Linked DNA regions of Homo sapiens. The protein of the gene in region 4 interacts with the protein of the main gene of each other region in a pairwise test. Each region holds a gene or a part of one and is shown on either strand. Other genes may lie near its edges.

The links.
Region 1: the proteins of BNIP3L (region 4) and GBP2 interact in a two-hybrid assay, tested with the Homo sapiens proteins (one large-scale study listed by BioGRID and IntAct).
Region 2: the proteins of BNIP3L (region 4) and CAMK1D interact in a two-hybrid assay, tested with the Homo sapiens proteins (one large-scale study listed by BioGRID and IntAct).
Region 3: the proteins of BNIP3L (region 4) and GNB5 interact in a two-hybrid assay, tested with the Homo sapiens proteins (one large-scale study listed by BioGRID and IntAct).
Region 5: the proteins of BNIP3L (region 4) and DOK5 interact in a two-hybrid assay, tested with the Homo sapiens proteins (one large-scale study listed by BioGRID and IntAct).
Region 6: the proteins of BNIP3L (region 4) and RHEB interact in a two-hybrid assay, tested with the Homo sapiens proteins (one study listed by BioGRID).
Region 7: the proteins of BNIP3L (region 4) and TMEM132D interact in a two-hybrid assay, tested with the Homo sapiens proteins (one large-scale study listed by BioGRID).

The regions. Positions count from the first base shown.
Region 1 is NC_000001.11:89,119,615-89,123,114, reverse strand, and holds part of GBP2 (guanylate-binding protein 2), read left to right. Parts: exon of another isoform or gene 1-1,131; 5' UTR 1,132-1,148; coding exon 1,149-1,338; exon of another isoform or gene 1,339-1,844; coding exon 1,845-1,972; exon of another isoform or gene 1,973-2,826; coding exon 2,827-2,936; exon of another isoform or gene 2,937-3,500.
Region 2 is NC_000010.11:12,821,547-12,825,046, reverse strand, and holds part of CAMK1D (calcium/calmodulin-dependent protein kinase type 1D), read right to left. Parts: intron 583-3,500; coding exon 495-582; intron 1-494. UniProt on the Homo sapiens protein: Calcium/calmodulin-dependent protein kinase that operates in the calcium-triggered CaMKK-CaMK1 signaling cascade and, upon calcium influx, activates CREB-dependent gene transcription, regulates calcium-mediated granulocyte function and respiratory burst and promotes basal dendritic growth of hippocampal neurons.
Region 3 is NC_000015.10:52,184,893-52,188,392, forward strand, and holds part of GNB5 (guanine nucleotide-binding protein subunit beta-5), read right to left. Parts: intron 1-3,500. UniProt on the Homo sapiens protein: Enhances GTPase-activating protein (GAP) activity of regulator of G protein signaling (RGS) proteins, such as RGS7 and RGS9, hence involved in the termination of the signaling initiated by the G protein coupled receptors (GPCRs) by accelerating the GTP hydrolysis on the G-alpha subunits, thereby promoting their inactivation.
Region 4 is NC_000008.11:26,393,054-26,396,553, reverse strand, and holds part of BNIP3L (BCL2/adenovirus E1B 19 kDa protein-interacting protein 3-like), read right to left. Parts: intron 1,325-3,500; coding exon 1,252-1,324; intron 1-1,251.
Region 5 is NC_000020.11:54,594,093-54,597,592, reverse strand, and holds part of DOK5 (docking protein 5), read right to left. Parts: intron 1-3,500.
Region 6 is NC_000007.14:151,488,896-151,492,395, forward strand, and holds part of RHEB (GTP-binding protein Rheb), read right to left. Parts: intron 2,120-3,500; coding exon 2,048-2,119; intron 1-2,047. UniProt on the Homo sapiens protein: Small GTPase that acts as an allosteric activator of the canonical mTORC1 complex, an evolutionarily conserved central nutrient sensor that stimulates anabolic reactions and macromolecule biosynthesis to promote cellular biomass generation and growth.
Region 7 is NC_000012.12:129,698,026-129,701,525, forward strand, and holds part of TMEM132D (transmembrane protein 132D precursor), read right to left. Parts: intron 2,674-3,500; coding exon 1,785-2,673; intron 1-1,784. UniProt on the Homo sapiens protein: Regulate neuronals morphology via inhibition of the WAVE regulatory complex (WCR), a complex that controls F-actin cytoskeletal dynamics.

The DNA.
Region 1 (3,500 bases), on a different chromosome or scaffold from region 4:
ATGGAAGCACGTCCATAGTACCTGGGCTACAGCTTGAAGGAGCTCTCAGTGAACTAATCTGGGACGAGTTGAGCAATGAGATAAATAGTGATAGTAAAGTGTTACCCATATGATAAATCTACACTGATCTACTATAGATCTACACTGATACAACTAAATGATTAAATAAGTAAATAAAATAAATAGAGGAGAAAGGGCAGTTCTTGCTCACATTAGAACTCTAATAAATGTAGAAGGAATGAAAATAGAAAATTACTTTTAGTCAAACATCACAGTAAGTTATAAGCAAGAATTATCAACAGATGCTAAAAATAGTGACTGAAAAAATTATGGAAGTATGATGAATCTTTATTTGCATAGTCTTCAAACTGTCTCTTCAAATGGTACTTTTTAGTGACAAAATGGTACATAACACTTTGTGGTAGAGAAACCTGGCAGAGAACACCTTAACCAAGTGATCAAAGTTAAGGTCACAGCACCAGAAAAAGTCATGTCAACATCATGAATCCCTTAATACAAGACACTGAAAATGGCAGAACATCACTTTGGTGACATTTGCAAAAAAAAATGTATAACTTCAATCTAATAATAAGGAAACATCAAAAAACCCAAATTGAGGGATATTCTACAAAATCATAGCCAGTCAACTTCTAAAATGTCAAAGACATGAAAGACAAGGAAAGAATAAGGAACTATCAAAGATGCAAGGAAAATACAGAAACATAATGACTAAATGCAATGAGGAATCCTGGATTGGGTCATGGAGCAGAAGGACATTAGTGGGAAACTGGTGAAATGTGAATAAGGAGTGTAAATTAGTTATCACTCTACCAATGTTAAAATCCTTGTTCTATGGTTATGGAAAATTTTAACTTTAGGGGAAATGATATATGGGAACTTTCCATACCCATTGTACATCTTTTCTGTAAGTGTATTTCAAAATAAAGTTATTTTTAAAGAAAGCCAGTGACCCAATTTGTAAGACAGCCTTAAAGAGAAACCAGGCTTTAAAAAACGTATATGAAAAAATGTTCAAGCATAGAAAACAAAAATTTAACCCATATTGTAAAGTTCAGCATAGCTAACTACCTAAAAACTGCTTTCCATTTCATCTTTTTCCTTGCACACAAGGGAACAACACCCTGGACATGGCTCCAGAGATCAACTTGCCGGGCCCAATGAGCCTCATTGATAACACTAAAGGGCAGCTGGTGGTGAATCCAGAAGCTCTGAAGATCCTATCTGCAATTACGCAGCCTGTGGTGGTGGTGGCGATTGTGGGCCTCTATCGCACAGGCAAATCCTACCTGATGAACAAGCTGGCTGGGAAGAAAAACGGTGAGTGACACCAGCAAAGCTCTAAGCCCCTTCTGTCCGTACACACGGCGAACATCCAGCTTAGGGATGTGAGCATAGAAAGAGATGAGAATGAATGTTGAAAGCTAACTTTCAGTCCATTAATGGGCTCTTTACATTGACTTTGGAGGATTACAGTCAACTGACTCTTCCCACTTTACTTTTATTTTATACTAAGGGTATAAATGTGCCTTTCTGGAAGGAACACAATGTTAATAAAGAAAATTAACTTCTATAATAATGACTTATAAAACATTTATTAAAATGTTCATGTAGTGACAGCAAGCTTTCAATGAACTTTAAGAAAAATATGAATGTTTCAGTGTGTATTAAATATCTAATTTTCCTGTTTCCAGGATTGTAATTAAGATTTATGCCAGTTGTATTTTCTTTTATCTCTTTTAACTTCAATTATGTTAACTTTTATCTCAATTTCCAGAAACACCTACTAAGTAATTTCTTTTCCCTTTTATCCTCTCCTTCTACAGGCTTCTCTCTAGGCTCCACAGTGAAGTCTCACACCAAGGGAATCTGGATGTGGTGTGTGCCTCATCCCAAGAAGCCAGAACACACCCTAGTTCTGCTCGACACTGAGGGCCTGGGAGATATAGAGAAGGTAAAAAAAATAAGTATTTTAAAAATTTCACTTAGGTAGATTAAAATCTACATAAACCAGGTCAGATCGATAACCATCTTTGCACAATCACTCCTACTCCTTGATTTAGGGCTCTAGTTAATTATATTAATATATTATTTCTTAAAATTTGTGTGGTATAAGCATTCAGAGTACACAATAAGTTCAATTGATTAATTATGGGTAAACCTATGAAATAATGGCTAATGATGTTTTCAGTTATTTCTCTTTCATATTATAGTAAAATGTTTTGGTGAGGCTGCTGAAGGTGCTTATAAACTTCAGTAGACGTTTTACAAACATGTCTGACTTTTTACAGTGGGATCCCACAAAGGTAGTAAAAATGTTCACATCCACACCAGCACCAGTAGAAAGAGAAGCAAAGTGTAAAATCTAATGATAACATCTTTGCTCATTAAGGATAATATATTACTACTGTTATAAATCTTAGACATAGAAAGCTTTTATTAAAGGAGCTTATTTTAACTACTGTGTAAAAAATATCTTACTATGATGTGCCATGGAAATGGAATAGGGTCATAAACTAAGTTTAGGGTACCAGTTTGAATTTTAGTAGCTGATCAAAATAGCTTCTCCTACCAAGTGCTCATGTGTTTCCTGCTGACATATATTTATATATAACACCTTAAATTATACATCATAAATATTATAAATTTGTTCTACAGGTAGAAAAAAATACTGCATAAGGAAGTGAGTTACCTAAGTTTTCAGAACTAATGAGAGACAGAGTTGGAGTTCAGTCAGTCTTCAGCTATCTGAATTGATTGTACATTCTGCTAGTCATTCTTCTTTGTGGCTTCTACAATGACTTACAGGGTGACAATGAGAATGACTCCTGGATCTTTGCCTTGGCCATCCTCCTGAGCAGCACCTTCGTGTACAATAGCATGGGAACCATCAACCAGCAGGCCATGGACCAACTTCAGTATCCTTTTTTGTGGTCCAGAACAGCAGTAAACCTAGAAAATAACAGCTTCATTTTTTCACCAAGTACAGAGGCAGACAGACAGGTACTGAAGAATTCATAAGTCCTCTCTTTAATAAATCTCATTATGCTGAACATCTCATTCTATCTCAATCTCCATCTGAACTTCAAGTCTTCCCAGTTACATGTCTCGTTAGATACTCAGCCACCCAAGACTCTGTATATCCTCTATCTGACTTAATCTCCTATGCCTGTCCAAACCTTCAATGTCCTCTAGAACTCATGTTCTCACTTCTGCAACTCTCTATATTCTTATCATCTGCTCTAAGTGTTGCCTTCTAAATGATACCTAGCTATACACTATAGATACTATTTCTCCTACAGACCTCTCCAGTGGTCTTATGTGATGACTATTTTTAATCCCATACCTTGCATATCATAAGTGTAAGAGATGAGTTAGGTATCCTCCTTGCTCCATATTAGAGTTCTGGACACTTTCTCATTCCTTTACCATTAAAAAGAGAATCTTCTTTAATATATATGCCCTCAGACTACACCACTATT
Region 2 (3,500 bases), on a different chromosome or scaffold from region 4:
GGCAAAATAGCTAGCTCTGAATTGCCATTGCTGATTGGAACACGGAGGGGAGGTCAGGTAATCAAGAGATTAGGAAGTCAGGTAATCAACAGATGATCACAAAACCTCCATGGTTTAAATCTGTCAAACTTTTATCAGGAAACATTGATGAGTACAACTCAGATTTCCTGTTTTTTCCCCCTCCATATCGCTTTAATAAAAGTCAGCTATTCAAAGTTCTAGCAAGGTGAAGAAAGACAAGGGTGATGTTGGTTAAGAAACAGCAGATGAGGAAGAGCTGGCACTATTGCTGTCTTTGATCACAGAGGGGAAGTGTTGAATTGCACACTCCATCCCTCTTACACCATAATATTCCCTCTGAGTCTTTATTACTTGCAGTTAAAATTAGCAAAATTATTCAGGTGAGGTTCTGGGGATTTCAGAAATGCTCAGATTGGAGGGCCAGTGTCACGAGGGGGTTAATCCACGGGGAATTTCATATACTCCACACTTACTCTCCATTTGCTCTTGGCAAAGTTTTTCCGGATCTGGGCGCTGACGGACTCGTGGATGTTTTTGTTGAGGGCTGTGTCACCAGCGATCCTGAAACAGAGGCAAAGGTGCTGCTCTGAAGTGCTTCTTCTGGGCCCTGACACTGCGTCCCATAAAGGGGAGTCTTACCTAGCCTCAGGAGAGCCGAGGCTCAGTCGTGGACAGGGTGGCTGGCCGCTGCCCTTCCAGGCTGCTGATGTCATCACCTGGCCATTCCCTAAACCCACCCATTCTAACCCCTCACCACAAAGTCCTATTCCAGCTTCTACACTCCGCACCCTCCCCAGACCCGCCAGCGCCCTCCTGGTTGACTACTCCCCGGCTCTCATTTTTTCCTTCTTTGACCCCAATTCCTGCAACATCAGAATCCACAGTGACAATGTCTCCCATCCTTCTCCCTCCCCCTCATCCCCTCTGCCTCCACACAAGCTTTTGAGCCACCATGCGCCACCTCCAAGGTCTCACACTTGTTCCCCAACTGGTCTCAGCACCAGACCCCTTCCCGGCCTTGCTTCCCAGCTTCCTCAGACCCGAGGTCCCTCCTCTCTGTCTTCCCCAGGGGCGCTGCTCCCAGGGCACCACTCACACCCGTGGGCTCTCAGCTTCATCTCAGCAGAGCTGAGCCTGCCACATTCTGCTTGGCAACACCTGTGAGCCCATGCCCCCCACCCACTCTATGCTGGGTGACAGGATTCCCAGCTCCACTCAACCCCGCCTGGTACATCCTCCACCCTTGCATCTCCTTGAAATTCTTAGAACTTCAAGGACGGCGTCCACCCTGCATTCACCTGAGCCCTTGGCAGCCCCGGGTAAGCTTTAACTCTAGCTGATTCCTGAGCCTGCCATGAGCAGGGAAGAACTTAGGTTTGCTCCTGGCCTTCTCTCCTGACAGTACCCTCCATCCCACTCTTTCCTCCCTCTGCTGTCTCTTTCTTGGGTCTTACAGCCTCCTCCTCTCTCTCGGCTCACAATATCCAGGCTGAGAATTACCTGGCAGTCTCCCAGCTCTTCCTTCCCTCATGCATGCCCTTCTCGATCACAGCCTCCTCCTCTCCCTACAGGCATCCACTTGGCCTTTTCCCCCTGGGCCTCTGTGCTCTGCTCCCAGTCTTTCCTGGGCTTTGATCCTTCCCTCTTCCCTTCCCTCTAGCACCAAACTATTCAATTCTGGGTTACTATCTGATGGCTAAGAAAGAGTTTCATGAATCTTGCAGAAGTTAAGGGGATCAGAGTCAGAAACCAACGTTATGGGCTGGAAGGTAACTGGTAAGGGAGAAAACCTCTCACCCCTGAGACACTGACTGCCCTGGACATTAAACAGCCCAGACACGGCAACCATCACTTCCAACTACTTCAGGAGATGAAAGGAACACGGCTCAGGCATATTCAGACAAGAGAGAATACCAGCCAGACTTTCTTTCCCATCAGGACTGCAAACAGGGTGGACAGAGTCGATATAAAATTGGGGCCAGGCTGGCCTAAGTTTAGAATCCAGGCTGATGTTCCCAGCTCAAAACAACTCTCCCCCACCACCTTTTCCCAGCAGGGCTGCAAACACACAGCCAAGGGGACGTGCAGGAAATATCTCAAGCAAACTAGGTTTTCATTTCCAACAACTGTCAACTGCCTTCCTTCCCAGACACATATTCCTGAAACAGAAATAGAGTATTTGAATGGGCAACTACATCTGAAACAAGAGTAACAAGACAAAGAGGATGAGAGAATGAGAGACATCTTTATTAAGCTTTTTTCCCCGGAGAGCCCAAGGGAGTGATTCCTCCTGGACCCTGTTGAAAAGCTACATCCTCAGAAAAGGATGCCAGTCCAAGCTTGCAGCGGCCAGCTCTTTCTTAGAAACGACAAGGCCAAAGTGGTGGGGAGTCTGGAATTCCTCAGGCTGAGCACTGCTGCAGGGCAGAGCCAGGCTCCAAAGCAAACAGGCTGGTGCTGGGGTCGGGGAGACTCTGGGCCTCGGGGTCCACCTGCTTGTCCGCAGTGTGGTCTCAGACCCCACGGCCCGTGGCCTGCTGCCTATACTCTGTGTCCCATGCTATATCTGTGGGTTCACATGGGCCCAGATGTAAGAAAACAGAAGCTTCTAATTATTTTAGGAATGCTTCATGCTCATTTCCCACAGTCCTGGGCTGTGCAGCAGTGGGGAGTCCAGCTGGGCAGAAGGTGGCCCCCAGGCTCTGTGTTACACGGTCTTCCTGCAGCAGTGCAGCCATGTCAGGCCACAATAGTGCACCGTGGCCCTCCCCAAGTACAAGCCGCAATGACAACGGTGACCCATGCTCATGATAAGCTAGGAAACTTGCAATAGTAACATCCGGACAGCGCTGATGCTCAGTGTCACTAACTTCAGCACGCTTCGCCAACAAAACCAGAGGCATGGAGTCTAAACATTGGAAGGGATCCTAGTGGTCAATGCTTCTGATACAGCAGGATTGCTTTATCAATCCATATACACACACTTAGGCAACGCTATGGGTGAACACATTTCATTCATGTCTCCCTTGCTTTTCTGTTTTCTTTTTTTTTTGAGACAGAGTCTTGCTCTGTCGCCCAGGCTGGAGGGCAGTGGTGCGATCTCGACTCACTGCAACCTCCGCCTTTGGGTTCAAGTGATTCTCCTGCCTCAGCCTCTTGAGTAGCTGGGATTACAGGCATGCACCACCATGCCAGGCTCATTTTTGTGTTTTTAATAGAGATGGGGTTTCACCATATTGGCCAGGCTGGTCTTGAACTCCTGACCTCCAGCGATCAGCCTGCCTTGGCCTCCCAAAGTGCTGGGATTACAGGCATGAGCCACCACACCCGGCCAGCTTTCTGGTTTTAATACCTACAAGAACAATGCAGATAGCATTTACGTAATCACACCTTTTACAGCCTGTCTCACTATCCACCACTCACGGACCACAGCCTAGTCTCCCCTGCCTTTCGTGGTTTTGTGTTTTGTGTGTGGTCTC
Region 3 (3,500 bases), on a different chromosome or scaffold from region 4:
GACAATAGGTTTTCTGAACTTAACACGTTTAACCAGTTTTTTGGCAGCTGGCAGACCTGCGTCAGGCAGGATTGATCCTTGCAGCACAATATCAATTCTGTGGGGTTTCACAATGGAAAACGTTTTTGTAATGGATGCTATAACTTAAAACTTTTAAAAACATTCCTCCCCTCAGGGTGAACTTTTAAAGATAAGGGTCAGCAAATGATGGAGCCTGACCCCAACCAAAGCCAGGGGCCTGAGTAAGTGTGGTGTGGGTTCCGTGCAAGGCAAGCACTCACTTATTAAACATTTGACAGCCAAAGACCCAGGGTCCCTGCCTGTTCACAAGGAAGTCAACAGACAGGCCCAGGCCGCTGCAGGGAGGCAGCACAAGCATCTAGTGGTTACAGGGACAGGCTCTGGCTGCCTGGTCCCGGCCCACCACTGAGGCTAGTTAGCTGACCTCTCTGAAGCTTGGTTTTGCTAATCTGTCAAGTGGAGATCTTAAAATCTACCCTTCTGGGGTTGTCAAGAGAATGATAAGAGTCAGTGCGTAAAGCACTTAGCTCAAGGTCGGTAATACAGGGAGTGTGCCAGCGAGGTCATGCTGCCCTGAGTGGCAGCAATAGCGGGAACAGTGGCTGCCTTGGGAAGGAGGGACATGGGTAGGGGCAGGGTGAGGCTGGGGATGCCAAAGAAAGCATAAGAGGAGCCTATGGCAACGGTTCAGACAAGACGCGAGGAAGTCATGGACTAAAGGTGAGAAAGTAACTTTTATCTGAGGAATGCAAGCCCTTTTAAATTATCAGGCCCAGAGAATCATGAAAATGAGACAGCAATAACGTTCTAGTCCCCACTTTGAGCTGTGTATTCATCTTTTTATTATTATTATTATTATTATTATTATTATTATTATTATTATTTGGGACAGTATCTCTCTGTCTCCCAGGCTGGAGTGCAGTGGCACAATCTTGGCTCACTGCAACCTCGTTCTCCTGGGTTTAAGCGATTTTCCTGCCTCAGCCTCCCAAGTAGTTGGGATTACAGGCATAAGACACCATGCCAGGCTAATTTTTGTATTTTTAGTAGAGGCAGGGTTTCACCATGTTGGCCAGGCTGGTCTCAAACTCCTGACCTCAAGTTATCCACCCACCTCGGCCTCCCGAAGTGCTGGGATTACAGACATGAGCCACCACACCTGGCCTCATCTCTTGAAACTGCTTGCCATTGGCACAAGTAGCTAAAAAATAACCTAATAATGCCACACTGGACACTATAACCCACACCCTGTAGTGTAACAATGTATAACCAGTCGCTAATCAATGTTATTTCTGTAAACTAATGAGAATTCCTAACAACTTTGTATCAGCCCACTCCCGGTCCCTCTTTTTTGCCTTTTTAAAAAAACTGCTTGTAACAAAGGCCAAACAGAGATAATGTCCAAGGTTACTTGGGTCTGGGCCTTCCAGGAATCTGTCCTCACTTTGGCTCAAGTAAACTCCTTAAGTCTTGGTTTGTGCTACAGCCTCTTCCTTTTAGGCCCACAAAGCAATGTAGTGGGATGGACTTGGACCATGCTTAGGAAAGAGAGAAGGAGCTGGATTTGGCATGTGGAGTTGAGGAGAGGGAGATGTGGGTGCTGTGGCCTAGATTTCTTTGGGAGACCGAGGGGTTATGTTGCCATTGCTGGAGATGAGGACAAAGCGGTTAAGGGGGAAGGGAGCAGCCAGTGTGGCCCTGTCAATTTGGTAGGTGTTCTAGAGTGAGCCCCGTCAAGATTCAAAGAAATGAACCCCTGAACATAAAGATAATTGGGGGCGCTGGTCTGAACATTTCAACAGAGTCAAATCTGAGAGGGATGCATTTATGGGGGAGGTGACAGTTGGGGACATTTCTGATGAGGAACGTCTGCCATGTGGAGCCCACCCTGGGGCTGGAGAGATAATGGGGGCTCATGAGTTGGGCTGAGCTCTTACAGCAAAGGGGCAGTCAGCACAGTTCGAGACCTCTGGGCAACAAAGGTGTACAGGGCATCCCTTAGGGACAACAGCTCGCAAGGAAACCAGCTACCAACTGCCACAGAGTGCCCAGCCCTCGCCTCTCCCTGGGAGGGAGGCAGGACATCTGTGTTACAGCTGAGGAAAAGCAGGGGGATTAAACAAGTTCAAGGTCAGCGGCAGAGCTGAGTCTGTAAGTAGCATGAATACACACTTTGGAACCCTATTTCCAAGCTAGCATGGTCAAGCTGCATGGTTTTGTCACAAAAGGTGAGTTAACAAAAAAGGGCCTGCCCTCCAGAGCCTGGCCCATGGTGGGGCTTGGTAACTGTTGCATCCCACTCCCCAGCCCTGTAAAGGCAGCCAGTAACAAGGTTGGGCTGAACACTCCCAGTAATAGCATTAGGACGGTGAGCCACAGGCTGTTAAGCAAGGGAGCAGTGTCATCCACGTGGATTATTCCAGCATTTGTGCTTCCAGAAGTAGGTCAGAGAGAGAGAGAGAAGGGACGGCAGGAAAACAAACTAGGTTAAGAGATTGCTATGTTCTGGAGAAGAGGAAATGAGCTGCGGACAGAGGAGCAGCTATGGGAATGGAAGGCGAGAGGAACCTATGGCACCAAGTGGAGGAGGAATAGAAGGATGGCTGGGAGGCACGGGAGAGAAAGACAAGTTGAAAAGATAGCCGATATTCCATATCTAGATAGAGGCAATGTTTTTCTTCTCAAACTAAATTTTGAATTTTTTCAAATTATAAAAGATGCTGATAATGTTCATTATAAATAACTGGAAACAGGGCCAGGTGTGGTGGCTCATGCCTGTAATCCCAGCACTTTGGGAGGCCAAGGCGGGTGGATCACTTGAGGCCAGGAATTTGAGACCAGCCTGGCCAACATAAGGAAACCTCATCTCTACTAAAAATACAAAAATTAGCCTGGCGTTGTGGTGCGCACCTGTAATCCCAGCTACTCGGGAGGCTGAGGCAGGAGAATTACTTGAAGCCGGGAAGCAGATGTTGCAGTAAGCTGAGATCATGCCACTGCACTCCAGCCTGGGTGACAGAGTGAGACTCCATCTCAAAGAAAATTAAAAATTAAAAATAAATAAATAAATAAGTGGAAACAGAAGGACACAAAAAGGGGAAAGTAAATCGCCCACATGCCCTACACCAACAACTGACCTGTTGGCATTTTATGTTTTCCTCTAGTATCTTTATAAGTATATATGTGTGTACTTTTTAACAAATTGGAATTATATGCCATATACTACTTTATATAATAGCATTTTCATCTTCACGTCATTGCATATTACTGGAAAACACCATTTTTTAACGGAGACTCCAATTTTTGAGTCCTATGGGCCTTAAGTCGTATCACATAGCTAGCATTTTAGACCTCACTGGTTAAACATGGGCAAGCTACAAACTAAATTTAAAGCATTTTTAAACTGTAAATATTATACATATGCATTGTAGAAAGTTTGGGGGAAAAAAAGATATAAGGAAGAAGATAATCACCTATAA
Region 4 (3,500 bases):
TAGAGTTTCCAGTTTTTCTGTTCTGTTTTTTCCCCATCTTTGTGGTTTTATCTACTTTTGGTCTTTGATGATGGTGATGTACAGATGGGTTTTCGGTGTGGATGTCCTTTCTGTTTGTTAGTTTTCCTTCTAACAGACAGGACCCTCAGCTGCAGGTCTGTTGGAATACCCTGCCGTGTGAGGTGTCAGTGTGCCCCTGCTGGGGGGTGCCTCCCAGTTAGGCTGCTCGGGGGTCAGGGGTCAGGGACCCACTTGAGGAGGCAGTCTGCCCGTTCTCAGATCTCCAGCTGCGTGCTGGGAGAACCACTGCTCTCTTCAAAGCTGTCAGACAGGGACATTTAAGTCTGCAGAGGTTACTGCTGTCTTTTTGTTTGTCTGTGCCCTGCCCCCAGAGGTGGAGCCTACAGAGGCAGGCAGGCCTCCTTGAGCTGTGGTGGGCTCCACCCAGTTCGAGCTTCCCGGCTGCTCTGTTTACCTAAGCAAGCCTGGGCAATGGCGGGCGCCCCTCCCCCAGCCTCGCTGCCGCCTTGCAGTTTGATCTCAGACTGCTGTGCTAGCAATCAGCGAGATTCCGTGGGCATAGGACCCTCCGAGCCAGGTGTGGGATATAGTCTCGTGGTGCGCCGTTTTTTAAGCCGGTCTGAAAAGCACAATATTCGGGTGGGAGTGACCCGATTTTCCAGGTGCGTCCGTCACCCCTTTCTTTGACTCGGAAAGGGAACTCCCTGACCCCTTGCGCTTCCCAGGTGAGGCAATGCCTCGCCCTGCTTCGGCTCGCGCACGGTGCGCGCACCCACTGGCCTGCGCCCACTGTCTGGCACTCCCTAGTGAGATGAACCCGGTACCTCAGATGGAAATGCAGAAATCACCCGTCTTCTGCGTCGCTCATGCTGGGAGCTGTAGACCGGAGCTGTTCCTATTCAGCCATCTTGGCTCCTCCCTATTCTGTGGTCTTAAAGCATCTATCTCAGTCTTTTTCTACTTATACACTCAAGAAACTAGCCTGGAGTATTGGCATGATTTATTATGGACAAGAATTTTCCAATTCGTTTAGAGTGACAGGGCCCAAAATCCTTAGTTGTAAAGGAGTGCGACAAGAACTATATCATCCTAAATAAATTCCAAAATCAGAAACTCAATAATAGCTTCAAACTATTCCTAAAAGTCTTCACATTTATTTTAGCAAAATATACTTAGAGAATTTACATCTTTCTTAATTGTTTACTGTAAATCAGAATCCCCCCGACACACCTGAGAGCTATGGTCCCTGCTGGTGTGCATTTCCACATCAAACATGATCTGCCCATCTTCTTGTGGCGAAGGGCTAGAAGAGAAGGAATTCAGCTATTAGTTTTAATTCTCACTTTGTCAAATGACTTAGTCTCTACTAGAAATTAGAAAATTAAAAGTTACAGCAGTATGGCTTTGAAAAAGCAAATCAGAGAATATATCATAACCCTATACAAGAAAAATTTATGTGATATTAAAAGGCTAAATGAAATTGAGCATTCTTACTCCCAAAATGTTCTGCACTTTTTCAGTAGTAATGAAATCCTTCAAAATGATAAATTTGCAAAGGAAATACTATCTACAGACACAAACTGTCACATTCTCTTATATTTACTCTTTTGTCCACTAAAGGTAAAATAATCTTCAAATTCAGGAACTTCAGAGTTCTTTTTCTCAAAGTTCCCTCATCATTAAATAATTCACCAGTAGTTCTCAAAGTGCATAAGGTAGTTCTCAAAGACGCTTTCAGAGGGTCTTTGAGGTTACAGTTCCTTTCTCAATACTAGTAGGATTTATTTGCCTTTTTCATTCTCATTCTCCCATGTGTATAGTGGAATTTTCCAAAGGCTACATGATGTGTGATAGCACAACAGTTAGAATGCAAACACAGATGAGAACCAGCTGTCTTCTATTAAGCTTGGTATTAGAGATTTGTAAATGTGTAAAACAATGCCACTATTCTTATTAACTTGGAGGGTTTATAGAAAATAGGTATTTTCACTAAAAAATGCTACTTATGTTAAAATGTATTATTTTTGAATGAATATATATTTTCTCAGTTTTAATTTCTAATATAGTAAATATCAAAATATATAAACCCACAAACAAGTTTTTTGGGGTCCCTAATGATTTTTAAGAATGTAAAGGTATGTAATGACCAAAAACTTTGAGAACCACTATTTTACTTATTTCAGAAATATTTGCTTTGAGATATTTCAGAGTGAATTATATAACTTATATATTAATATAAAACCTTTATGATTGCACAAAATACATTCTTAGAACTGTAAAAATTTACAAATAAGTTTTTAGACAAAAACAACATGATCACAAACTGCACTTGATACAAGAGATGAACAGAATGTGCTAAGTTAATTTCTTAGCTTTATTAATGATTTCTTGTATAAAAACTGAAAGTCACTGGGGATCCTTCACTACATACACAAACCCTCCCCCAAAATCTAAAATAGAAATAAAAAATATTTGGGGCTTAACTTGCTGAAAAGAATAGATATTAACTATTAAAGTTATCAAGAGTATGTATATAATGTTAATTAATGTATAGAGACGTTGGTGAGACTGACTCAGAAATAAGATCGTCAGAAATTTATCAGACAGATTAGGCCTAGGAGTCTTTTAGACTAGTATAATTGACATAGGAGATTTTTAAATGGGGACAGGAAAACAGAAAAGCTGGTTCTGTATCAAACCAACGTCATATATATTTAGGAAATTTTTGTCTTGAACTAGCACAGGAGTCAACCCGAACTGGGCACTCCTACTGGCCTCAGTTTACTATCTTTGTGCTCATAACTGTTGGGTTCACAGCTACACATCAAGTTAAGGGTCAGCCTTACATAGCCGTGACCAGGTCAAGGCAGTCAGGGTGACAAAGTCAAGAATCCTATGGAAGCATTGCTCTGCTTCTATATGCTTCTTCACACTGGTACCAACCTCTTCTCTAAACTGTTTACTCCTCCTAACAATTTGGAATGCATTAGAGCTTCACCCATGGCACATATTAGAATCGGCTGGGGAGCTTTTAAAATATTGTGACGTCTCTACCCTGCCCCTGTCAACCAAAATGAGAAGTTCTTGAGATGCAGTCCATGTGCTGCCATTTTTAAAAGCTTCTGGGTGAATCTAGTGTGCCGTCAAGGTGAAAACCCCTGTGACAGGGTGAAAGGCAAAGCAGAACACACTGGGGTTCCCAGCTAACAACCCCTGCGGCAACACAAATATTTCTATGGAATAATTTTTAAGTTGAAAATATACATAAATCAGCTCTAGGACTGATACCCAACAACCCTAAAACATTTCCCCCTACAAGAAACACTTTCCAATTACTTTTCACATATAGAGACGCATGGCAATTCAGATGATGTGAGTTTTGAAGACACTCCTCAATGGTAAAGCGTGTTAGTAGGCTATCCCAGAAGACTCGAGTTCTAGCCATTCTCTGAAAGATGACCACTAATCTAGGGCCTGGA
Region 5 (3,500 bases), on a different chromosome or scaffold from region 4:
TTGCCATTGCCCAGGTTTCATTTTAAGAGGGAAATAACTGTATCCCCTAGTTTGTATGATAATGAGTAGCTCAAATGAGGTAATGAGCCTCTTAGTACAGAGGCTTTCATATAGTAAGGGCTCAGTAAATGGTAGTGATGATTTTCAATGGCTCATACACCTGCTAGAGTAGGGTTTCTCAACCACATGATTAGACCTGATAATCCTTTGTTGTCAAGGACTATTCTGTGCCTGTAGCAGCATCTCTGGCCCTTTTATGCACTAGATGCCAGTAACACCCCCTGCCCAGGTTGTGACAATCAAAAATGTCTCCAGACATTATCAAATGTCCCTTAGGAGCAAAATCACCTCTAGCTAAGAACCACTGCTCTGGAAATCGGCACTATTGTGAGTGCAAATGTCAATTACAGTCAAATAGCCTCTTGACCTTATTTGTTTTGAGCAATTATTAAATGCTATATTGTACATATTTTGTTAGTTTTTAAAAGCCTCACCTCCACTCCTCTTCTGATAGCAACAGTACCCTCTTCCTGCCTTCAGTGAACCAACCTCATTGCATTTGTACCCTGTGAGCTTTGTGTAAAGTGCAGTGCTTGACACATAGTATATATAATGACAGCAGAGAGTAGTAATATATCTCTCTTTTACTGAGATAGTGTGGGGAGATCTCAAAGCTTCTGAAAGTCACCATATGGAGCTAGAATGAAGCTATTTTAGAAGAAACAGAACTGTCACATAAAACCTGGGATTATCATTTGGACACTGAGCCAAGCCAAGCCTGAAGCCATCTTTACTCCTCAGACTTTGAGTTTATGGAAGTCAATGAGTTTCTTTTCAGTACTAGTTTGGGTGGATACAACTGCCTACTACATTCAGGCACTATTCCAGGTGTCTTTACATGTGCCTTTATTTAATCTTCATAGCAATCTTTTGAGATAAGTAATATATGTGTTCCCAATTTACAGGTGGCAATGAAAAAAAGCTCGGTGAGTTAAGTGACATATCCACGTTCCCACAGCCAGTATGTGATAGAACTGTAATTTTACTTCATTTCCTCCAACTTCCAGTTCAGTCTGTTACACATGCCCCACTGTCAGCTTTGGTGGGGTGAAACGGAGCCACTGAGCAGGAATAACACTCAGTTCTAGTTCTAAGAGAGAGGCTGAACATGAGCAGAACTTTGTCCAAGAAAGATTCCCTGTGTTCTAGAGGATATTGTTAAGTTTTTGCAGATGCATGTTGGATATGTGAAAACTACTTGCTTAGACAGACAACTCCTGCTCACTTCTCGATGTGAGAGAAGGGGAAAATTATACTGGTTGATATAAAACTGCTTTGTTTCAACACATCCAAAAATAGCCAAGGAAAAAACTTATCTTCACTAATAAAGCAAGGCAGACATGAAACCTTCACGCTTGGTGTGGAACACGAATGATCTTATTATCCTGAGCATCTTGATGGTAAGTATAAAAATTTATCTTTATTTGAGTTTCAAGCAAAATATAAAATAGTAATTTTACCTTGCATTTAACACTATCCTGCAAGCTTATGTTCTGCTCCAAAAGTAATCATAATAGAATACCAAAGATACTATTTAGGAGAAGCCCAGCATCCTTCCAGGTCATCTACATGCATTTCTGCCTTTACCTACAACAAACCTGCAAGAAAGTTATTACTCTGATCAACTTACAAGGAAAGTTAAGAACTTTGTCCAAGGTTAGCAGCTAGCAAAAAATAGAGATTACTCAGGGTCTCTCTAAATTCTGAATCAGTACTTTGTATACTACACCAAGCTGTTTGAGAAGTAAGATGCTAAGCATACAACTCCCACACTTTCCTTTCTGACCATTCAATCTCAAGTTTGCACCAGCCCTGCAAAACATGACCAATGCATAAGAAATAATGCTATTCAAAATCAATAAATATTCTATGTCCCTACGATATTGGAGATATAACATTGAGTGGCCTGGGTTGTGAATATTATAATCATCTAACCAGTGGAGTTCTTGGATGAAATAAGCAAATGGATGGACCATAAAGGGGTCATCAAAGTCATGGGATAAAACACTTATATCTTCCAAGTCAGCATGTTGGTAAAGACCATTGAAATAGTTCTCAACTTTGTCACCCATATATCTTTTCATCCACCATTGTTTCACTTGAACTGGTTCAATATCTCCCACATCCATACCTATCTCCTCTATCCTACCGTGCACAATGTGATCAAAGTGACCTTTATAAACTTTTTTTTTTTAAATGGAGTCTCGCTGTGTCACCCAGGCTGGAGTGCAGTGGCAGGATCTCAGCTCACTGCAAGCTCCGCCTCCCGGGTTCACGCATTCTCCTGCCTCAGCCTCCCGAGTAGCTGGGACCACAGGTGCCCACTACCACGCCCGGCTAATTTTTTGTATTTTTAGTAGAGATGGGGTTTCACCGTGTTAGCCAGGATGGTCTCGATCTCCTGACCTCGTGATCTGCCCGCCTTGGCCTCCCAAAGTGCTGGGATTACAGGCATGAGCCACCACGCCCAGCCCTTTATAAACTATTAACACAATTACATCACATACACACACACCCCATATACACACATCTCATACACACACAGAGACTCAAACATACCAGCCTCCAAGTATCTATGGTTTCCTACAGCACTTAGGAGAAATATCGAGGTCTTTTAAGTAATCACCTAAATCCTTAGCAGTTCCGTTAGATTTCAATATGAATAAATTAAACGTTTGCAGGATATGTACAGTGTTCATTTTATACCTGGAAAATTAATAAGATAACATGTTTTCAAGTTTAAAATAGATATGAGATACTAATAAAGTTTACTAAGGTTTTGATCCTCAAACATTACCATAAAAAGCTATACTTTTTTTCTACTACTATTTCCTGTAAATGGTAAATAAAAAAAGATTTTAAAATATTAATAATTGAATAAGTGCTGCCCAAAACAGATCCAAAGAGTCTTGATCAATGCAGAATTCTCTTACACATCAATATGAAATATGAATGGAGATGATATGAGAGGTACAGTCATAGAAAAGTCTATTTATAAAACATTTTCAATACTTAGATTTCACTGGTTATCGTTAATGCATAAATAATTTCTGAGACCCAAAGGGAAAAATATACCAACCTTACCAAAAAAAATTATTCATTTTCTATAGGGATTTTCTTTTGTCATTGTTGTTTTCTTTTGAGACAAGGTCCACTCTGTCGCCCCAGGCTGGAGTGTATTGGCAAGATCATAGCTCACTGTAGCCTCGACCTCCCAGGCTCAAGTGATCCTCCCACCTCAGTCTCTGGAGTAGCTGAGACCACAGGTGTGTGCCACTATGCCTGGCTAATTTTTTTTTCATTTAATTTGCTTTTATTTTTTGTACAATATACCCAATGATGAATAGGTATTCTTATTTTCTTTTTTAAAAAACTTTTGTTTTAAGTTCATGGGTACCTGTGCAGGATGTACAGGTTTGTTACATAGGTAAATTTGTGTC
Region 6 (3,500 bases), on a different chromosome or scaffold from region 4:
ATGTATATATAGCTCCATGATACACAACTCCATGACTTTCCTTCCAACTCAGTTTTTACTTTTGAGACCACATCTTGCTCTGCTGCCCAGGCTGGAGTACAGTGACATGATTACAGATCACTGCAGCCTCAAACTCCTGGGTTCAAGTGATCCGCCTGTCTCAGCTGAGACTACAGGCACACACCATCACGCCCAGCTAATTCCAGCTCAGTATGAAATGGCATGAGGATACAGCCACAATATCCACTTTTAGAGGCAGAGCTTACGAAGAAAACAATCTTCTATTGTTCTGTTAATACAATTCCAAAATGAACCTTATTATTTCAAGGATCTAAAATCCTAAATTGCTTTGTATAGCAAATATTAAGGTCCAAGATGATGATTTTCTTATGTTCTTATTCCAGTGGACAGAAAACCGAGCTTGTTCATCCAGCACTCACATTAATCTGCTCCTCACACTTGCTTACTATTATATAATGACCAGCTAGACAAATCATAGGATGTAATCAGGACTCCTCCCTGTAGATACCCAGAGGTTACTTTCAAATATAACATCTTGAAAGGTTACTTTCAAAAATATTCCTGGAGTTAGTTTATCAACCAACAGGTTTCCTTCTCTGCTACCAGCACACTGGAACACAAAGGACAGCCAAATATTTTAAGCGAGGGGTGAGCAAACTTTTTCTGTAAAGGGCCAGACAGTACCAGTAAATATTTTAGGCTTTGTAGGCCACCTGGTCTCTGCTCTTACTATTCAACAACTCTGCCATTGTACAGCATGTAAAGGACAACATGTAAAGGAACAAGCATGGCTGTGTATCAATAAAACTTTATAGAGGTTAACATTTGAATTTCATATAATTTTCACATGCCAGACATTATTCTTCTTTGGACTTTTATATATTATGCTTAAATGGAAAAACCTTTCTTAGCTCTTGGTCTGTATAAAGACAGGAAATGGGCCTTGCTGGCCTGCAGGCTGTCGTTTGCCAAGCTCTTTACTGTCAGCCAAAGCATTCAAGTGATTCTCTTGCAAGCCTCCGGCCGGTGAAATATGCTTCGTGTCTAATATGCCAATCAGGTGTTGATGAATCCCATGTTTAAATCTACATGTTCCTGGTGACAAATCCTAGATAAGTCCTGGTCTCAAGAATCTGAGAAACCTAGTTCCAGGGCCCACCTGGGGTTCTAAGCCTGAAAAGACCAGCTTCCCTGCTTCAGATTATCCTTGGCGATCCCTAGAATCAAGATCTGTCTCAAAGCTGGGCACAGTGTTGTATGCCTGTAGTTCCAGCCACCTGGGAGGCTGAGGAAAGAGGATCACTTGAGTCCAGGATATTGAGTCCAGCCTGGGTAACACTGTGAGACTCATGTCTCTTTAAAAAATAAAATAAAATAAATAAATAGTCTCATGGTCCTAGAATCCATCAGGAATATTCTGAAACCATGGATTAAAATTGAACAAAGTAAAGGTCATGGCTGGTTCTGTCTTCCCTGCTTTTTTCTGCACATGGCCTAAAATGTCAACAGGCTTTTTGAGCCAACTTCTTTTTAATGCTGCAACTGCTCTATCCAATCCCAGAATAGTTCATTTCTCTTTCAAATCTTTAGGGCTGGAAAGAAGGGTATAGAGAAATGTGGGTGGGAGTACGGCTTCTGTAAGAATAAGGAACAGGGATCTCGAGTGTTTTTCATTCTTTCAAGCTTGGAATCCCTGGAAACTGCAATGGCTGGGAGAAAGGGGGTGTGGGGGAGAAGACTGTGCTCTCCATTCCTGTTTTGGAGCAGATTCTGGAATTTGAAGATTCCAGTAATGGGCCAGACTCCTACTGACTTGAATTAATAATTTCTAGATGGCAGGGGATGCAGACATGGAAGGAAAAATCTTTCAGGGTAAAGTAGGTAAATCTTTTGCAAGTTTTCTTTGACCCCAATTGGGAGACACACAGAATTTACCTCCTGCACTCAAAGCCTCCATGAATACACAATGGCTATTTTACACAAAAGAAGGCTTCTCAGTTTTTAAGTACTTGAAAACAATACTTACTGTTTTCTATGGTTGGATCGTAGGAGTCCACAAATTGGCCTTCAACAAATTGAATCGTCAATGAGGATTTCCCTATAAAAGAGAACAAGAGCTTAGTGTGTGTTGGCATATGAAGGTAAAAATTTTTAATTTTGCTGTTTTATTAAAAAACCATTAATAGATGAAGACACTGAAGGTATCAGGGTCAGAAAACATTCATTTAATTAGCATGTGAGCAATTTCAAAAAATGAAATAAATTTCATTAATTTGCTTTATATGAGGATATTATGCAATTAAGCTATTACAAAGTAAACATGTCTGTGACATTAACAAATATTACTGACCAACAAGCACATCAGATATTCTGTTAAAGATAATCTAAAAGGTTTAAAGTAAGCTAATTTCCTCTAGTATTCTTGGAATCTTGCTATTTAATTTTAATATGAAAATTAAAATGATTAGTTTCGTTGTATTCATTCATATATGACGGTTAGAAGTGTTACCAAGTACAGCTTTTAAAAAGAGTAATCCGGCCAGGCACCATGGCTCACGCCTGTAATCCCAGCACTTTGGGAGGCTGAGGCAGACGGATCACCTGAGGTCAGGAGTTTGAGACCAGCCTGGCCAACATGGCGAAATCCCGTCTCTACTAAAATTAACAAAAATTAGCTGGGTGTGGTGGCGGGCACCTGTAATCCCAGCTACTTGGGAGGCTGAGATAATAGAATTGCTTGCCCCCAGGAGGCAGAGGCTGCAGTGGGCCAAGATTGCACCACTGCACTCAAGCCTGGGCGACAGAGCAAGACCCTGTGTCAAAAAAAAAAAAAGGGTAATCTGAAAATATGTAACATAAGTCTTTATCTTAAAAACTCCTTTGAAGCTAGAAATCCTATGTCATTCAGTATGAAAGGCCTAGCAGTATCTAGAAATTAAGAAATGTTATGGATTTCACAAAATCGCCAATAATTGAACTTGTATGTTAATAAATCAACAACTAGAGCCTTAGCTTCTCACTCTTCTGCTACCTAAAATGTCTACTGGAGGACTTTAGAACAGGGTACATGCCCTGTGAAGAAATCGCATGAGATGCATAGTTCAGATGACTTTATCACCAGGAATGAGGAAGTGGTCTCTCCCTAATTTCACCTCCAAACCCTTCCTTCTCTCTTGCATCCTTGGAGCATTATTACACACATGCTGTATATGCCTGGCATACTTAACTCCATCACAACAGGACGTGCAGTGAGAGTGAAGGAGAGGCATGGTAACACCCATCTTACACTACTGGGTTTAATTTATGCTTGTTTCTCCTCCAAACTATGGATAGGTATAGTTGCACAATGTTTTCACACCAAAGGCATTCCTTAAAATTTAAATTATTAAAAAGTTGGCTTAAAAGTAGTGGTTGCTGGCCGGGTGTGGTGGCTCATGCTTGTAATTCCAGCACTTTGGGAGGCTGAAGCGGGTGGATCA
Region 7 (3,500 bases), on a different chromosome or scaffold from region 4:
AAATGGCAGACGGTATGAAACGGTGTAAGATCAAAGCTCCCCTATTCAAACTTTTTGTTTCCACCACCAAAATATTTCTCTACGTAAGCAGCCATCCTCACAAAGAATACTATGTAAGACTGTTGAACCCAGAAAAGTAAAACACAAAGCTAGCAGACCTCATTGAGGACCTGTGGCCAGCTGGATCTAGATCCGATTTCCAGAAGGACGGAAGGGAACGCTAATGAAGGCTTGGCCAGCGCAGATGTGTTCCTGTACCCTAAATCCCTGCGGCTATTCCGCGAATGGCACGTCCAGCCAGGCCAAAGGTTTTTACCTTCCAGGACTTAGCCAAGTTCAGTCATTAGATGCATGTCCATTAGGTTCTGTTTCTTTAGTTAAAATAGGCATTTCTAATACTAGGTCACAATCAAATAAACTTAAATGTGCAAGGTAGAATCAAAACGGTGATTTATTTTCTTAAACTCATCCACCCTTTAAACATAAAGGAAAAAAGGGGAGGGGAGAGGGGAAGGGAGGGGAGGGGAGGGGAGAAGGGAGGGGAGAAGGGAGGGGAGAGGGGAGGGGGGAGGGGAGGGAGGGGAGGGGAGACGGCATGGAGGGGAGGGGAGAGGGGAGGGGAGGGGGAGGGGGAGGGGAGGGGAGGGGGAGGAGATGGGGAGGGGAGGGGGAGGAGAAAGGGGAGGAAAGGGGAGGGGAGAGGGGAGAAGGGAGGGGAGGGGGAAGAGGAGAGGGGAGGGAGAAAGAGAGAGGGAGAAAGAGAGGGAGAAAGAAAAGAATAGAAAAAAGAAAAGAAGAAAAGAAAAGCTAGAAAAAGCAGCCATAAATCCCATATGAAGGGGGATAGAGAGCTGGTCATCATTGGATGAAGTTTATAAGCCCACATATGAAACATGTCTTACATACAGTTACACTCCTCATTTCAGGAGTCATAACACACATTTTATTACATTGCACATCAGGTCAAATTGTTGAGTTATGTAGCAGTGCTAGGACATTTTTAATAACCCAAAAACACTTCTACTAAACAGCTGTTGTAATCAAACTTGCCTGTGTTGAAAATAAAACTAAAACTATATAATGAAAATACAAACAAGCCTAGGCAAGTAGCTTCTCTCATACGTTATATTCCACAGTGAAAACCAGCCTATATTTATTCTAAAGTACACAGAGCTTATTTTCAATGTCTTCTCTTTGGTATATTCTTATATAAGAAACTCAACAAATTCTACTGTATATTCTTCACACGTTATGCTCATTTATTTTTTTGAACACTAAGTTCTATTTCCAGGGAGAAACAAAATGGTAACTTTGAGGTTGGTACCATATTATACTTAGAACTTACATATCTGGAATAGATTTTGAGTTGGCAAAACCGTGTTCCCTGTCCTTTCTGACAACTGTTGCCATTTCATTTGCAGTCTCATTTCAGCTGTGAGGCATTTAACTCTCCCAATTTTGAAAAGCCTTCTTGGATAATTTTAGCATTCCCAAAACTTGCTGATAATACCCTAAGCTAAGGGAAAAGGCGTACCATCAGCAGCCCCCCGGCTGCCCTATCAATGGCTTGGAAAATCTATTAAGACGAATATTCTCACAACCCAATTGCCAACCCGGAACGATCAGACTGGTCTCTGTATTCCACGGTGCAGATGGAGTTTGTAAGAACGGGAAGGCCGGCTCTACTTCGGTGAGCGATAACACAGCTTTTCTGGTCAAACAGCTTCTGGAAAACACCACCTGATCGACGGGCGGGTACAGACAGACATTGGGAAACGACTTACCTCAACGTGAAGCGATCTTCAGTGGAATTTCTGGAGATGGAAACAGGAAAAGTCAGCACGTCTCCTTTCCTCACGGTCTTTGGTATATAGTGGATGGCCACGCTGTTGTCCAGACGCAGTTCTCTCAGGGAGGGTTTCCTGTGTGTCTGATAAAGGAAGATGCTCCCGATCCTCTGCAAGGGGGGCCCGGACTCATCGATGTCACTGTGGCCTGTCCGGATCCCATTGCTTCTCCTCGCGTCTTCCCTGACGCAGTCCCCTCTCTCACCCCCTGGGTGCACGGTGTAGTAGAGCTCCACGGGGGTCCCCTCCGGCTGGTCCACGGACTTCCTCCTCCCGGCAACCACCGTGGGGGGGCTGAACCAGCTGGACAGGAGCTCCAGCTCGGCCACGCACAGCCCCAGGTCCCCCTGCAGCCGGCAGCTGCCCCGCACCTCTCGGGTCTCTCGGAAAGCAAAGACCCTCAGGCACGGCAGCTTCTCCCCGGCGCTGCGGTCGTCCCAGTCTCTGCCCATGATGTGGAACAGAACCTGCACTTTGGGCCGGCTCAGGTAGACTTTGTCCCGCAGGATGTGGGCTTTTAGTTTCCAGTTAAGAGAAAATTTGTTGGTGAATCCAAATGGGTTGGAAGGTAGCATTAAATCCTGGGGCACCACTTGCTCGATGGAGAAAGGCCCGTAGCTGGCATTGAGGACAGGCAGCCTCCTGGATTTGTAAATCAGAAATGACTCCACCCGGGACTGCAGGCTGGAGTTCCTCATGATATCCTGGTTGGCCTCCTTCAGGAAGAAGGAGACGTCCGCGTTGTTGATGTGGTAGGTCACGGGGAGGTAGGTGGGCAGCAAGGAAAACCTCTGGATGCTCTCAAGGATCCCTCGACCTTCCGTCACTGTGGGGAGGGAATCGCAGTGCAGGCGTTAGTAATGCTAAGGTCCTGTTACCAGCATTTCAGACATCTGCGTGCCCCCTTCATAACAGAGGACCCTGTCTTCGCGCCAATTATGCAATTCCTTATCCAAACCTCTTAATCCAATCTACTCGCTTCATATTATTTGTTTCAGAAGAAATAAATGCCACCAACCTAAGTAGAAAACCAGTATCATTTAACCTATAAAAAAGTTGAGCATGCAAATAAATACAATTCAAATACAGTTTTAAAATTTCCACTCGTGATAATGGTGTTTTTATGGGGTTATGGTAAAGACTTGCTCTTTTTTTGATCAAAGGAGAGATTAGCAAGTGTTAGAAAGCTGTCACAGACAAGCTACCATCGACAGAGAGGCACCGTCCCATTGACTCAACACAGACTGAGATTGGAAACAGGAATGACTTCCTCAACACATGGATTGATGCCACGTCCACATTCCACCTGATACATATTCCTTTGTGTTCCACTCATATGCACGTTCTGCATATACGCACATGTCCAATGGGAAATGCTAACAGACTTGGGGCAAAAATAGACGCAGATGCACAATCATAAATCACATGGACAGTGGACACCCGCCCCCAGTTGGAGTTAAGGGGAGAGATGCAGAGAAAATACCTTGGAAGGATATATTGGGAGGGGCCCTCTAGAAATAGATGAGATGAGGTGACCACGACACCAATGTGTCAGGGCCGGGCGTACAAAGCAATGCTCCAAGTCATCTATGAAACACTGGACCCTGAACCTAAGAAGCACGGGAAGGGCAGCACCTCGCTTCCATGCCAGCC